2 separate regions of the Homo sapiens genome follow, and region 1 is linked to region 2. Evidence: fine-mapped expression QTL. Tissue or cell type: whole blood. Region 2 holds a variant in brackets; the other region holds the start of a gene. All regions are shown on one strand. Distances are from middle to middle.

The links. PIP is the estimated chance that this variant, and not a neighbour inherited with it, causes the effect.
Region 1: it holds the start of PPEF1, and the variant in region 2 is fine-mapped to the expression of PPEF1 in whole blood (TOPMed, PIP above 0.99).

Annotation. Positions count from the first base shown.
Region 1 is chrX:18,703,428-18,711,610 of GRCh38, reverse strand. It overlaps PPEF1 (protein phosphatase with EF-hand domain 1), which reads right to left and starts at 3,966. Exons shown (of 16, transcript NM_001377996.1): 1 at 3,785-3,966. The coding sequence starts at 3,830.
Region 2 is chrX:18,669,400-18,677,582 of GRCh38, reverse strand. RS1 (retinoschisin 1) reads left to right here and starts at 5,475. Exons shown (of 6, transcript NM_000330.4): 1 at 5,475-5,566. The coding sequence starts at 5,515. It overlaps TRV-TAC1-2 (tRNA-Val (anticodon TAC) 1-2), which reads left to right and starts at 2,602; the gene lies at 2,602-2,674. It also overlaps a transcript of PPEF1 not described here. RefSeq lists a silencer at 2,491-2,677. The variant T/C (reference allele first, on the strand shown) is at 4,916.

The DNA.
Region 1 (8,183 bases), 34 kb before region 2:
TTCAACAAACAGTGCTGAGACAACTGGATATCCACATGCAAAAAATGAATTTGTACTCCTACCTCACACCATACGTGAAAATCAGCAACTCAAAATGGTTCAAATGCCTAAAAGTAAGAGCTAAAAGTACAAAACTTTTTTTGGCCTTTAAAAACATATATATTTAGGGGGTATAAGTGTAATTTTGTTACATGTATAATGAAGTCTGGGCTTTTAGCGTAACCATTACCCAAGTAGCATACATTGTACTCATTAGGTAATTTCTCATACCTCACCCCCCTCCCACCCTCCCAGCTTTCTGAGTCTCCAGTGTCTATTATTGTATTCTGGATGCCCATATGTATACATTATTTAGCTCCCACTTTTAAGTGAGAACATGGGGTATTTGACTTTCTGTTTTTTGAGTAATTTCACTTAGGATAATGGCTTCTTGTTCCATCCATGTTGCTGCAAAAGACATGATTTCATTCTTTTTTATGGCTGAGTAGTATTCCATGGCATGCATATATATATATATACACACACACACACATATATATACATATATATATGCACACACATACATACATATATACGTATATATACACACACATACACACACACACATATATACACACACACACACTTACATATACATACACCACACATTTTCTTTACCCAATCATCCATTGAAAAACACTTACGGTGATTCCATATCTTTGCTATTGTAAATAGTGCTGCGGTAAACATAAGAGTGTAGATATCTATTTGATATAATGACTTCCTTTGGGTAGACTCCGTGGTGGGATTGCTGGATGAAATGGTAGTTTGGTAGCTCTATTTTTAGTTCTTTGAGAAATCTCCATAATGTTTTCCACAGAGGTTGTACTAATTTACATTCCCACCAGCAGTGATAAACATTCCCTTTTCCCTACATCCTTGCCTACATCTCTTATTTTTTGACTTTTTAGTAATAGCCATTCTGACCGGTATGTAAGGTGGTATCTCATTATGGTTTCAATTTGCATTTACCTGATGATTAGTGATGTTGAGCATTTTTTTCGTGTGTTTGTTAGCCATTTGTATGCCTTCTTTTGAAAAAATGTCTGTTCATGACCTTTGCCCACTTTTTAATGGAGTTATCTTTTTTTTCTTGTTGAGTTGTTACAAAACTCTTAAAGTAAGACGTGAGCAAAAATCTTTTTGGACTCGGGAATGGATTCTTAGATATGACACCAAAATCACAAGCAACCAAAGAAAAAATAAAGTGAACTTCATCAAAAGTAAAAACTTTTGTGCTTCAAAGAACACCATTAAGAAAGGATGAAGAGAATTCAACAAATGAGAGAAAATATTTGCAAGTCACATATTTGATAGGAAACTTGTATCTAGAATATATAAATTTATCTTACAACAATATAAAAATAAATAATTCAATTAAAAATGGGTAAATGATCTGAATAGACATTTCTCCAAAGCAGATATACAAATAGCCAATAAACACATGAAAAGATGCTCAATGTCATTAGTCACTACTGAAATACAAATGAAAACCATGGTGTGATACCACTTCATACCCACTAGGATGACTAAAATCAAAAGGACAGACAATAACAACTATCGCTGAAAATGTGGAGAAATTGAAACCTTTATACACTGCTGGTAGGAATGTAGAATGGTGCAGTCACTTGGGAAAACAGCTTGGAAATTTCTCAAAATGTTAAACATAAAGCTACCGTATGACCCAGCAATTCCACTTCTAGGTATATACCCAAGAGAACGGAAAACATATGTTCACAGCAGCATTGTTCATAACAGTCAAAAAGCTGAAACAGGTCGGGCACAGTGGCTCACGCCTGTAATCCTAGCGCTTTGGGAGGCCGAGGCGGGCAGATCACCTGAGGTCAGGAGTTCGAGACCAGCCTGGCCAACATGGTGAAACCCTGTCTCTACCAAAAATACAAAAATTAGCTAGGTGTGGTGGTGTGTGCCTGTAATCCCAGCTACTCCAGAGGCTGAGGCAGGAGAATCGCTTGAACCTGGGAGGCGGAGGTTGCAGCGAGCCGAGATCGCCCCACTGCACTCCAGCCTGGGTGACAGAGCAAGACTGTCTCAAAAAAAACAAAAAACAAAAAACAAAGCTGAAACAATCCAAATGTCTATCAATTGATGAATGGATAAATACAATGTGGCATATTCATACAATGAAATATTATTCCACAATAAAAAGGAATATAGTACTGATACATGCTACAACATGGACAAAGCCAGACACAAAAGGTCACATAATATATGACTCCATTTACATGAAATGTCCAGAATAGATAAATCCATAGAGACTGAATATAGATTTGTGGTTGCCAGGGGCTGAGAGGAGAAAGTGCTTAATGGATAAGGGGTTTTACTTTGGAGTGTTGGAAATGTCTCAGAAGTACATAGGGGTTGTGGTTGCACGACACTGTGAACATACCAACTGCTGCTGAGTTGTTCACTTGACAATGGCTAATTTTATGTTACGTGAATTTCACCTCAATAAATCACAGGTATTTGAAAGAAAAAGCAATCCAAAAATCTAAGCTAATATTTCCACTTACATGCAATGTTTTAAAAGTTGAAAAGTATTTCAAAAAGAGAGAGGATTTGTTTTTACAAGTTGGACTTGGCTTTTTTTTTTTTAACCTAGGAAATTTGGCTAAATTTAAAGAACTGTGAGTAATCCTAGATATAAAAAGATAATTTCTCTTTACTCTCTGCTAATAAACGTCTACTACAGCAGTAGAGTTCAGATGGAGCTTTTGAAAGATTTATTTCATGACATGCTTAAAGATTTGAAAGAGTCAGTACACCTCCTATGTCCCTTCCTACTTTCAGAGATGAGTTTCCTACATCATCAGCACAAGTCAGCTGGGTAGGAGAATAACATTTGATTCCCAAAGTAAAACATCCCACGCTAATTAGTATAGCACACTCTGCATCCTAAACCCTCCACCTTAAGCCTGAATAAACTTCCAAAGGCAAGACGTGGAATAGAAGTTGGGGGAATTACCTATAACCTAGACATCAAAGAAGTGGAGTTTAAGAGCAAATTACTCATATTAATTGTCCCAGCTTATTTACTTGTTTTTATTTTAATTTGCTTGTTGGAAACTCTATCCCTTAAATGCTCAAGTTTGTTTCAACTAGATGCCAATAGCCATGAGAAAGAACCTCAGTACAAAATAAACAAAGTGAATATTTAAGCTTCTAATTATATGGGGGTACAGAAAGGCATGCCATCTATTTAGAAACAATACACCTTTTTTTTGGAAACAGATGATCTAGCATTCTCCCAATTCTCCTAGATTATTTTTAAAACGTGATGCAAATCTCATGAAGTTCTGTGTTGAATAGATATAGAAATAATGTGATCATTGAGTTATAAAATCCAATAAAAATTCAATGATGCTACTAAATGTCACAAAAGTAGGGATATAGCTATTTATAAAAGTATTGAAGAAACACATATAAATTACACTGCCTTTCTTGTTCCCTGCCACTGAGTTTTAAATTGAGATTTTATATTGGTACATTATCGAATGAAATTAAATCAAACACAAAATATCTCTAAGACAATACTTTATGGTACTTCATAAATTCAAAGCTACATCTTCCTAAATGTAGTTTCCTATGCTACTCTAACGATGCCTTGTGCAAATCACACAGGGCAGCTTGAGCATCGTGGGAGTAAATGAGAAAGGAGAAGAGGGTGAGGGCAGCTCATTTTCCCCTTTTCATTCATAACCACAGGCACATTCCCAGTACTCACATGTGTCAGATCTCCTGGTTTTCGTTGAAGAACTGCTGCATCCCATGACTTCTATCTAAATCATATGTGTTCATGAATTCAACTTCTGATTTTAAGACAGAGTGTGAAAAGTGCCTCCCTTTAAGCTGCGAGGAACCACTCTTAGCCGATCCTCTTCAGTCATAGATTCTAATGAGGAATACACAGGAGGGAGGGAAGGAAACCGCCAGTTAACCACATGGTAGCTGAGGGGCTGCTCAGCAGGATTCATTTTACGCTTCTTCTGAATCGCTGTTCATCATGTGATGTGGAAAGTGATCAGACATAATCTAATCCTGGCTTATTTTCCAAAACACAGCAGCAGCTACAGAGCAGCTATAGGCTGCTTCTCTGCTAGACATAAATGAGTTTCTCCATGTCTAGGTCACATCCAGCTCTGTATAAAATAGAGCATTCAAAATGAAAAGAAAAATCGAAATATGAGAGTGTACGATTTTCTAATTTAAATATGGGGAATGGGATGTGGAGGAGCTGACATAATTAACTGTTTTGGTTTTCAGCTCAAAGTAATTCAACCTATCTAGGCTTTTAAAAACACAAATTGGAAGTTGACTATGAGACAAAAACAACATATTTAACAGCTATGCTGAAATTCAAAGTGAGTTCTTTGACAGTATTTCGCGGAATAAGTTGGGAACATTTGTTTTAAAAAAAAGGAGGCAGCCGGTCGCAGTGGCTCACGCCTGCAATCCCAGCACTTTGGGAGGCCGAGGCGGGCGGATTACGAGGTCAGGAGTTCGAGACCAGCCTGGCCAACATGGTGAAACCCCGTCTCTACTAAAAGTACAAAAATTAGCCAAGCATGGTGGCACATGTCTGTAATCCCAGCTACTCAGGAGGCTGAGGCAGCAGAATCGCTTGAACCCAGGAGGCGGAGGTTGCAGTGAGCTGAGATCGCACCACTGTACTCTAGCCTGGGCGACAAAGCGAGACTCCATCTCAAAAAAAAAAAAAAAAAAAAAAAAAAAAGGAGGTTTGAAACCTCCCCCCAAATTTAGGAATTGTAATCTGTGAGAGTGTCCTTTTATTTATTTTATTTTTTGAGACGGAGTCTCGCTCTATTACCCAGGCTGGAGTGCAGTGGTGTGATCACAGCTCACTGCAGCCTCAACCTCCCAGGCTCAGGTGATCCTCCCGCCTCAGCCTCCCTAGTAGCTGGGACTACAGGCATGCGCCACCACACCTGGCTAATTTTTTGTATTTTTAGTAGAGACGGGGTTTTGCTGTGTTGGCCAGGATGGTCTCGAACTCCTGACCTCAGGTGATCCACCTGCCTCGGCCTCCCAAAGTGCTGGGATGACAGGCGTGAGCCACCGTGCCTGGCCAAGAGTGCCCTTTTAAACAAGCTCTCTGGGCACTGCTGAGGCCCCTCTGGAGTCTAACTTTGTGTTCTATAGTCCTTCTCATGAGCTCCCTGACTCCCATAATCACTTCACGGGAGTTTTCAACAAAATTCCTTTCCATAGTATACTGTCACGTCACTTTTTAGGGTGATGTTTCCTTTATTTTGTGATGCTCCAAACCAACCTGATCTAATATATTTGCATTCCTTTTTTTTTTTTTTTTTTTTCAGACAGGGTCTCACTCTGTCACCCAGGATGGAGTGTAGTGGCACAATCACGGCTCGCTGCAGCCTTAACCTCCCAAGCATGTGCCGTGACACCCGGCTAATTTTATTTTTTTGTAGAGACAGGGTCTCCCTATGTTGCCGAGGCTGGTCTCAAACTCCTGGGCTCAAGTGATCCTCCGACCTTGTCCTCCCAAAGTGCTGGGATCACAGGTGTGAGCCATCTTGCCCAGCCCTATTTGCATTTCTTGACAGGCACAAAGTCAGCAAACAACTGACATATCTATCTTTCCATTGGTACTACACCAAAAGCTTCAAAATTTCAACTCGACTGAAGAAAGGGAAAACTAAAATAAGCAAAATATTTGAACTATGGCCATGTTTTGAAAATAACAATAAGCTTAGTAAACAGATTTTCTGACCAGAGGTGAACCTGATTATTTTATGTATTGAATGAATTAGCCTTCCTAAACTTTGGGTTACTTCCAAATTTTTATTTATTTTTTGAGACAAGGTCTCGCTCTGTCACCCAGGCTGGAGTGCAGTGGCGCAACCATGACTCACTGCAGCCTCCACCTCCCGGGCTCAAGTGATTCTCCTACCTCAGCCTCCTGAGCAGCTGGAACTACAGGCATGCGCCACCATGCCCAGCTAATTTTTGTACTTTTTTGTAGACATGGGGTCTCACCATGTTGCCCAAGTTGGTCTCAAACTCCTGGCCTCAAGCAACGTGCCCACCTCAGCCTCCCAAAGTGCTGGGATGACAGGCATCAGCCACCGTGCTTGGCTTTATTTCCAAATTCGATAGGCATTTCTTTCGTGTCTTCCTTATCTACATCATGGCTAAAGAACATTAACAAGATCAGATCCAAGGGCAGGATGAGCCCTGTGGCATCCCACTCCAAACCATCCTCCAGGTTCACCACAGATCCGTTACCTTCATACTCGCTGAGCACATTTGTTCAGTTAGCTGGTAAACTCACCTATCATAACTCTCATTTATCTGTGAGACATCCTGGAGAATTTTACTAAATATTTTAATAAAATGATGATATGTATATATTTTGATACTTTGACATTCCAGCTTATTCCAGCAAAAGAAGAGAGAGGGAAGGAGGAGGAGAAAAGGAAGGAAGGGCAGGGGAGGAAGAAAGGAAGGAAATCAATTTGGCAACATTTTTAATACAAAATCATAGAAGTTTAAAGGTGAGAGAGACCTTTAAAATTACCTAGTATTTACACAAAGTGCAAGGAAGTTAAGCAACTTGTCCCATGTCATATAGACCTGTGCTTGTCATACTTCGTTGCATATGAGTGTCACCTGGGGAGCTTTTCAAACTCCCAGTACTCAGCCTGCACCTCATTAAGTCAGAATCTCTTGGGGTTTAAAAAATACTGATGCCCAAGTCCCACCCCCAGATAATTTGACATAATTGGTACTGGGTGGAGGATGAGGCATCAAGATTTTTTTCAGTTTTCCAGATTCTAATACACAACAAAGTTTGACAATCTGTAATAGAGACGGTATTTTAGAAAACCCACGGTGCTGCATAGTGATGATCACATTTTCCTAGAAATGCTTTGGCTCCATCTATTTCAAGCTGAATTTTTCCAGAGGTCATATCAAGTCTGTGGCTTCTAGCATATATTCTTTTCTCATTTTTGAAATTGGGGCACTGTTCATCTAGGAATTCATCTAGTCCTGGTGACATTCTCCAGGTGCCTAGATCAGTGCTCTCCAACTCGAGTGCTCACAAGACTTATTGGGGGTGGGGGGATGCAGATTCCCAGGCTTTACTAACAATACTCAGATTCAAAAGTCCAGTGCCTTGGAATACACATTTAAAGTGCACCATGCCGAGAACTTTGATGCAAGGAATCCCCATATCTCAGTTGAAGAAACACTATTTTCCAACAGTATCCAAATCTCGCTTGGGCTTCGCTCCATCCTCATGCTATTTTTTCCACCCCTTTTTATGAAGACATAAGAATTGGGGCTGGGCACAGTGGCTCTCATTCGTAATCCTAGCACTTTGGGAGGCTGAGGCAGATGGATCCTTTGAGCCCAGGAGTTCGAGACCAGCCTGGGCAACATAGGGAGACCCCATCTCTACCAAAAAATACAAAAAATTAGCCAGGCATGGTGGTGCACATCTGTAGTCCCAGCTCCTCAGGAGGCTGAGGTGGGAGGATCACCTGAGCCTGGGAGGTCAAGGATGCAGCGAGCCGTGATCACACCACTGCACTCCAGCCTGGGTGACAGAGTGAAATCCTGACTTTAAAAAAAAAAAAAAAAAAAGGTATGTTTTTTAATTTAAAAAAGAAAACAGGGGAAAAAAAGAATTGAGCATTTAGTAGGCCATAAACACTGATTGGACTGATTGACATATTTCAATTTCGATTTTCTTTTTCCAGAAAAAAAAAAGCACTGTCTCAATATCTCTCCAGAGGCATTTGGTTTTCAGTCACCCCTCAGTTAATCCACAACAAACACAACTGCATATAAAAGATTCAGTAAGAACTAAAAAGCATCAAACTTGAGTATATTTCTGTTAGACTATTAGCCCCACGGGCAACTTCCAAAGTAGCCCTTGAATCTCTGGCACCTACATGGTGCCTTTCACATTGCAGATGTTGGATAATGCTAAATGAATGAATGAATGAACAAAGGAATCAATATTCCTAGGCCAGAGTTCTTTAAAAATTTAGTTGCTAAAAGTCATTATTAATCCATCATTTTGTGCACAGGTAGGTGCTATTCAATTATACAAAAGCATTTTATTAAATCAGAAA
Region 2 (8,183 bases):
CATGAAACCGTCCTTAGAAGTGGACACGTATTCTGGACTGCAGAAAGGGTTCACTTGAGCTAAGCAGTCATGAATTTAGTGTGAAACCAGTCAGCTTGGATGTGTTCTTCTTGGGCCATGTTCAGGGGCAGGGTAGGGAGACAGTCAGATGTAAGAGATTGTGGTTTTACCAACAAGCACAAGGAAGAAATGAAAGGGCAAACAAGCAAGTGATAAAAATGACCACAGAATTTGAGCTGGGTGGGGCCGGGCGCGGTGGCTTACGCCTGCAATCCCAACACTTCAGGAGGCCGAGGTGGGCGGATCACTTGAGGCCAGGAGTTTGAGATCAACCTGGCCAACATGGTGAAACCCCATTTCTACTAAAAATACAAAAAGTAGGCCAGGTATGGTGGGGGGGCGCCTGTAATCCCAGCTACTTGGGTGGCTGAGGCAGGAGAATTGCTCGAACGGGAGGCAGAGGTTGCAGTGAGCTGAGATCGTGCCACTGCACTCCGGCCTGGGCAACAGAGCGAGACTCCGTCTTAAAAAAAAAAAAAAAAAAAAAGATTGTGATGACACCTTGCGAGGGGCGGCGGGGAGAACAGAACACAGTTTCCCTCCTGGAATGGAGAAAAGGAACAAGAGTTTTTCACCAAAGGCAGATACCTGTGTCGCATGCAACAGAGGGACACCAGCTTCTTTTCTGCACAGAGGTTAAGCATGCAACAGAGGGACACCAGCTTCTTTTCTGCACAGAGGTTAAGTGTGGGAACTTGGCAAACATACCTTTATACCCAGGGGCAGACAGAAAAATCGGGATGTGGGGGGCTGGAGAGCAAAGCATTTCCTAGAGACACCATCCAAAACACAACCAGTGGGTGTAACTTTAGGGCCAGTTCCTGGCAGTCTTGTTTTCGACCGCTAGGGGTTTGGAAACAGGTGGGATACACTTATTATCAGGCTTCCCAGGAGTCCTGAGGCTCACTGACTAGTGGGAAACGTGGAGCTCTCAGGAACGTATCCTCCGGCCGGTGGCTGGCCACTCTGGTCATCTCGTGGCCCACAATCTAGGCATCAAGCGCTCGAGAGGCCTCTGAAAACGTCTCACCAAAAAAGCAGACTAGAAGGGGGCCCCATGATGAATATGACAGGGAGCTAACTGAGGACATCGGGAAACGGGTACTAGAAAAACCCACGCCACTAGCTGGCCTGCCTCTACTTCTGGGCGGGGGGCGGGGGTGTGTGTGTGGGGGGGATTACATGGCAGATAACTGCCTCCGTTTTCCTACGTGGAAGATGGGCATAACATTGAGACCCAGAGGTGAAAGGGGACGTGTTTAGTCCAACCCTTGTATTTACAAAGGAGGAGACTGAGACCAGAGGTGAACTGACTAGCTCGAGCACCCAGCTCATGAATGGCCAAATCAAGACGAACATCCAGATCCCCACCTTAGTGTTCCCTGCACCCACCTGGTTTCTTCCAGAGGCCTTCCCAGGAAGACAGGAGTTGGCTGAAGGGAGTTCCTGCCACAAAATCAGTATCACTTATCAACCTACCGACCTCAGCAGAAGATCCAGAGAAAAGGACAGCTGCTGCCTGCAGACCAAGTTCACCTGGGCGCTTAAAGATGCCCCCCCCCCCCCGCCCAAATGATTGCAGGTGGGTTTTCAAGCTTGAGAATGGTGAGCAATCCTAGGGTGGTGACGAAGATCCACCTGGAAGCCCTGAAGAAGGCAAATGACACTGACGATGAAAAACAAGAATCACCCTTTGTGATGGAGGGTCCCAGCCCGTTACCCAGACTACAGTCCTGCAAGCAAGTCAGGGACCCCGCACCAGGTTGAATACTCTGCTGTTACCGTGTGAAATTCTCAAAAACTTAACAAGGGGCCTGGCATCTTCATTTTGCACTGGGCCCCTCAATCACGTGGCCAGGGCCGCTGCCACCCTGGAAGCCATAGACGGGTGGCCCCGTCTACACGTCTTCGTCCCCCAACCCCTGCAGCCCTAGACTAAGGAGACCTAACGGAAGCCCTGGCATTTGCACCCCCTAGGCCTGTCCTCGGGAGGGGAAGAAGGCTGCGGGAAGGGGCAGGGGAGCGGGTAGAGGTCCACACCCTCGGGCAAAGGGCCCGCTAACCAGCGGCCCGTCCTCCTTGCTCCGGAGGCGAAGCCTTCCACGCCGCCGCAAGCGGCGACGTCCTGACTTCCGACCGGCAAGTGGGCCGGGTGGCCGAGGCTCAGTTTGCCGGTTGGGAAAATGGGAAGGCGCGGGGCCCTCGCGGGCGGAGGAAGCTGCCGGGGGCGCAAAGCCCGAGCAGGGTGCACTTCCGGCCGCCGGGCCGCCCCGCCGGCGCCTCGATTGAGGGAAAGTTTGGGGACAGATGATAGCAGGGAGGTGCTCTCGGCCGGGGTTCCGGCCTCGCCCTGGTCCCAGGGGCCGCGACTGTGGCGGGCAGGGAAGACAAGCCGCCCAAACGCCGGAGCCCGAGACTCGAAGCCGCCGCAAACTCCTCGCCTCGGGGGCGGGGTCACGGTGGAGAGGCGGGGCTCCGGCGGAGGGACCGGAACTGCTGTGAGTCTATGAATAAAGTCCCAACAATATTCTTCCTCGTAGAGGTTCCATAGTGTAGTGGTTATCACGTCTGCTTTACACGCAGAAGGTCCTGGGTTCGAGCCCCAGTGGAACCATAGCCGTAAGGCGGCTGTTTTTGCTTTTATAGGGTTTCGTTGTTTGGGTTAAAAAAAAAAAAGGGTTTGGGTTAAACAAACAAAAAAAACCAAAAAGCGACAACGAAGTGTTTTTCTTTGTCCTTTTTTTCTTTTTAATTTTTTGGCATGTTTTTCTCGCAGAAGTGAAATGACAGATACCCTCTCCTATCCCACAAGGTCACTGCCGCCATAGTCCGACATGAGAAGTAGTGGAGGGCAGGGGCCGGGCGAAGTCCTAGACCCGATCCGGCGCCCCCGATCCGGCCGGGCCCTACCCCACCTCTCCTCCCAGTACGCCTCGGAAAATCGGGCGCTCGGGGAATGCACCTGGCTGCCCTTTGCCTGCAAGCCAGCAAGGGCCGGCCACCCAACCTCCAACTAAAATGTGGCAGGCAATACAGCAGCGCTTTGACTGCAGGTGAATTATTAAAGGTCGGTCATGATTATGACTCTGATTAAAAGTTCTATTTTTCATTAAACTCTGATGTGCAGAGCACGAAAAAAAAAAAACCCCACAGTCCCTTTTAATGCAGCAGTAGAATTTGTGGAATAGAGTTCATACACAGTATAAAATAAATGTCAGGCTTGTAGACATTCAATAAATACTGGTTGAATGAGCAAACGTTTCTCTAGTTTCTTTCTGTTCCTCTTTACTATTTCATTACAGTTTCCTTTGGGGAGTTTATTATTTGTTTAAATATTGGCTTTTTTATCTTTGACAAGAGGAATGAGGGTGTGGGCCATGGTGAGATGGTGGTAGCAAAAAATATAAAATGGGAAGGGGCACTCAGTATTTTTCTCTGCATTTTCAACCTAGTTATGCATCCTTAACAGTGTAGAAATTTGCGTCTTTTTCTAACTTGAGTGTAACTCTTTCCCTGTTATTACAATCACTTCATCAACTTTATTCTTTTTTTTTTTTTTGGAGGCGGAGTCTCACTCTGTCGCCCAGGCTGGAGTGCAGTGTCGTGATCTCAGCTCACTGCAACCTCTGCCTCCCGGGTTCACACCATTCTCCTGCCTCAGCCTCCCGAGTAGCTGGGACTACAGGCGCCTGCCACCTCGCCCGGCTAATTTTTTGTATTTTTAGTTGAGACGGGGTTTCACCGTGTTAGCCAGGATGGTCTCGATCTCCTGACCTCGTGATCCGCCCGCCTCGGCCTCCCAAAGTGCTAGGATTACAGGCTTGAGCCACCGTGCCCGGCCTTTTTTAAAACCACCTTAACCATTTTTTTTTTTTTTTGAGACAGAGTCTGGCTCTGTCACCCAGGCTGGAGTGCAGTGGTACAATCTCGGCTCACTGAAACCTCGGCCTCCTGGGTTCAAGCGATTCTCCTGCCTCAGCCTCCCGAGTAGCTGAGATTATAGGTGCACGCCACCACGCCCGACTAATTTTTGTATTTTTGGTAGAGACGAGGTTTCGCCATGTTGCCCAGGCTGGTCTCGAACTCCTGACCTCAAGTGATCTGCCTGCCTTGGCCTCCCAAAGTGCTGGGATTACAGGTGTGAGCCACCACCTCCAGCCCACCATAATCATTTTTAAGTGTACAGTTCAGTAGTGTTAAGTATATTCACATTGTTGTGAAACAGATCTCGGGAACTTTTTCATCTTGCAAAACTCAACTCTATACCTATTAAACAACTCCCCTTTTCCTCCCATCAACTTTATTCTGAATGGTGATGTAAAAATAATAGCTAATTATGTCTAGCACTGTGCTAAGTATTTTATACATATGATCTCTTGTAAGCCTCAAAATAACTCTCGAAAGTAGGCATTATTATCATCATCTTACAGATGAGAAAGTTTAGGCGCAGAGATATTAATAACTTGCCCTGAGGTCACAATGTAACAAGTGCTAGTGCTGCGATTTGGCACCCAGTCTGGGTTGGCAGTCTGTGCTCTTAAACCTACCAGGCTGCACTCATCTCTTGATTTACTTAACCAGCCCCCTAACCTTGGCCATTTAGATTGTTTCCAATTTGTTGTTGTTAAAAGTAACACAGCAATGCACAGCTTTGTGTTAACTGTCCTCCCACCACCACCAAATTTAGCATTTTCCTGAGTGAATAGGTGTGCACATGATGCCTAGTTGCTTTCAAAGAGGGGAATCCATGACATTTTCATACAATTCGAGAATGTTAGTGCTTATGTGGCAGGAAATTGTTCAAGGTCACCCCCTAAAAAATGATGGCGAAGAAAGGACGAAAACCTGAGACTTC[T/C]GGTTGTAGTTCTCTCCCTCCATTGCTTCCCTTACATTAAGATAGAATGAACAGTATGGGCCGGGCGCAGTGGCTGACGCCTGTAATCCCAGCACTTTGGGAGGCCGAGGTGGGTGGATCACCTGAGGTCAGGAGTCCGAGACCAGCCTGACTGACATGACGAAACCCCATCTCTACTAAAAATACAAAAATTAGCTGGGCGTGGTGGCGTGAGCCTATAATCCCAGCTACTCGGAAGGCTGAGGCAGGAGACTAGATTGAACCCGGGAGGCAGAGGTTGCAGTGAGCCGAGATGGCGCCATTGCACTCCAGCCTGGGTGACAAGAGCGAAACTCCATCTCAAAAAAAAAAAAAAAAAAAAAAAAAAGAACGAAAAGTATCTTCCTCGCGAACTGAATCTCAGTTGATGCTAGTATCTTCCATGAGACTTCCTTGTTGAGGCAGGTAACTCTGTGGGTTAACTTGATGGGGCTCAGCCAAAGACCTAAGAACTAAATGGATTAAGATGCTTAATGAGGCCAGGGCTCAACTTAATCCCCTGCTCCTGGGCCAGCTCTCCAGTTCAGTAAGGTAGAGCTTTGGCCGAGGACGAGGGGAAGATGTCACGCAAGATAGAAGGCTTTTTGTTATTACTTCTCTTTGGCTATGAAGGTATGTGCTATTCAACCATTGACATTCATTGCATACTTAATACATAATTTAATTAATATCGTTGATAAATAGGAATATAGCCTGAATAATATAAATATTATTAATTAGCAACACGTTAATTAACTAACATGTGTTATTAATGAACAACAGTTGTCTTTGTGTGGATGGCTTTCCAGTTCTGTGAGGAGCCTTCTAAAGTTCAAAGGATGCTTAAAATCCAACAGAAAACAGGATGGGTCTCAGAAATCTATAAAATAGCCATAAGTTGCAACAATTAATGAGAAAGTATGGCATATTCTGGAAAACTTTTAGGAGTCAAAGTGGGAGTGATTGTAGAATTTAATATTCCAAACCGGAATGCTATTGACGGTGGAGGACGATGCTATTAATAATTCTGTTGGGACGACAGGTGTAACCCAGGACCATCCAGGGCAAATTGGGGTGTAAGGTCAACCTAGTTTAAATATGGATTAACGTAACATACCCAGTACCACTGGAATCTAATAAAAAACATAATCCAACTGAGAGTCAGGAAACCTCGGAGACTCAGTACACTCACTCATTTTAAAATTTCTAAATATGACCCTAGCAGAAGTGATATGCTTCAATTAGGAAAAAATAAGGGCAAATCTGTAAAATGTCATCCAGTTCCAATTCCCTCTCAATCTTTGAAATAATATTCTTTCATGCCTCTCTCAATTCTCAAGTACCCATCTGCTCAGAATTTCTCCTCAGGTTCATCCAGATGTTAGAAATTGGTTGCCTGTCTTCTTTGTGGACATCGTGTATTTGTGTGTTATAGAAAATAAATTAAAAAGCAGGGAGAAGGAGGTCTCTGTGCTCTGCAAATGACCTGGTAGACAGACACAGCGAAACTCACACAAGTAGAATCAGAATTCTTGGTTTCACGGCTCACTGTAGCCTCAACCTCCCAGGCTCAAGCCATCCTCCTGCCTCAGCCTCCCTAGTAGCTGGGACTACAGGCACGCACCACCACATCCGGCTAATTTATTGTATTTCTTGTAGAGAGGGGTTTTCACCATGTTTCCCAGGCTGATGACTTTTGTTACTTAGTCACATTTCTCAGTATTTGGAAAGACTGGTGACAATATAATTCCAAGGTCATTCTGCAAACCCCAAGGTATATTTCTAAGTAGGGATCATGTAAACCAGTTGTCTGTTAGGATTTTTTCCCCTTGCAATTAATAGTCTGCAACTTGTCCCAGTAACTCTGACTACTTTAAGATGCTTTGGGGTTTTGTTGTTTTTCCTTTTACTCCTTGCCCCCTCCTCTTTCCTCAGCAAGAAAATCTAAGCAGACTCTTTCAAGGCTTAGATCTAAATACTCCTGGTTGTCAGACACTCCCAGGGCTCACTCTCGGATTTCTCTTCTTTGTGATTGGCATGGAGATTCATTCATTCATTCCTTGGTCCCTTCTTTTAAGAGCTCATCCCTGACTATCTGCTAGGGGGCAAACATTGTGTATGACGGCGGGGCGCGGTGGCTCATGACTGTAATCCCAGCACTTTGGGAGGCTGAGGCGGGTCTATCACCTGAGGTCAGGAGTTTGAGACCAGCCTGCCCAACCTGGTGAAACCCCGTCTCTACAAAAATACAAAAAGTATCTGGGCATGATGGCAGGTGCCTCTAATCCCAGCTACTCGGGGGAGGCTGAAGCGGGAGAATCGTCTGATTGCTGGAGAGGGAGGTTGCAGTGAGCTGAGATCATGCCATTGCACTCCAGCCTGGGTGACTGAGCGAGACTCAGTCTCAAAAAAAAAAAAAAAAAAAAGGACTTGACATGCAGGGCATCCTTGTTTCTTCCACAGTGCTGAGTCTAACAACCCTGTTCTGTGACCTCCCCACCCCCGCGATGCGAAGAAGTCCTAGAAATGTTTACCAAAGCATTTTAAAATTAGACCTGCCCAGTTAGTGGATATCAGCAATAAAAGACAGGCTGTCAGGAGGCATGAAGGATAGCACTCTTTCGTGTTCTAAAGTTTACCAATCTTTGTGCATGGCTGGGGAGCTCCAGAAATGTCCACGAAGAGCAGAGAACATCGTCTCTCCAGGTGCCCTGCAACGTGGGCCAGTGGGAAGGTTTGGGGAGCTTAAATTATCTTACTTGCTTAACGCAGGCCTTTAACAGCACTTGAAAGGAAAGCAGCCAGCCAAAAATAGCCAGTGTGGCTTGGCAACCTACTGTGTGCCCTACCCTGGGCCAGAGGGATGCTCCAGGGGACAGAGGACACAATCACTGAACTTAATCAGCATATTATCCAGATGGAGATGCATAAGGCCCATAGACATGGGAAAGATGCATCCCATTGTACAGCTGGGAACCTGAAGACAAAGGCTGTTTGTCCAATTTACCCTCCACTGCTTCTGTCCTTCAGTGGCAGTGTCTCCTCATTACAGTGAAATAAGGTAAAGAAATTGCCTTCACTTAGGCGTTGGATGAAGGTTCATTTCGGAGAGCACACAGCCTCACAGTAAGGCATTTCCTATGTCTTTTTTTTTTTTTTTTTGAGAATTTCACTCTTGTTGCCCAGGCTGGAGTGCAGTGGCGTGATCTCGGCTCACCACAACCTCCATCTCCCGGGTTCAAGCGATTCT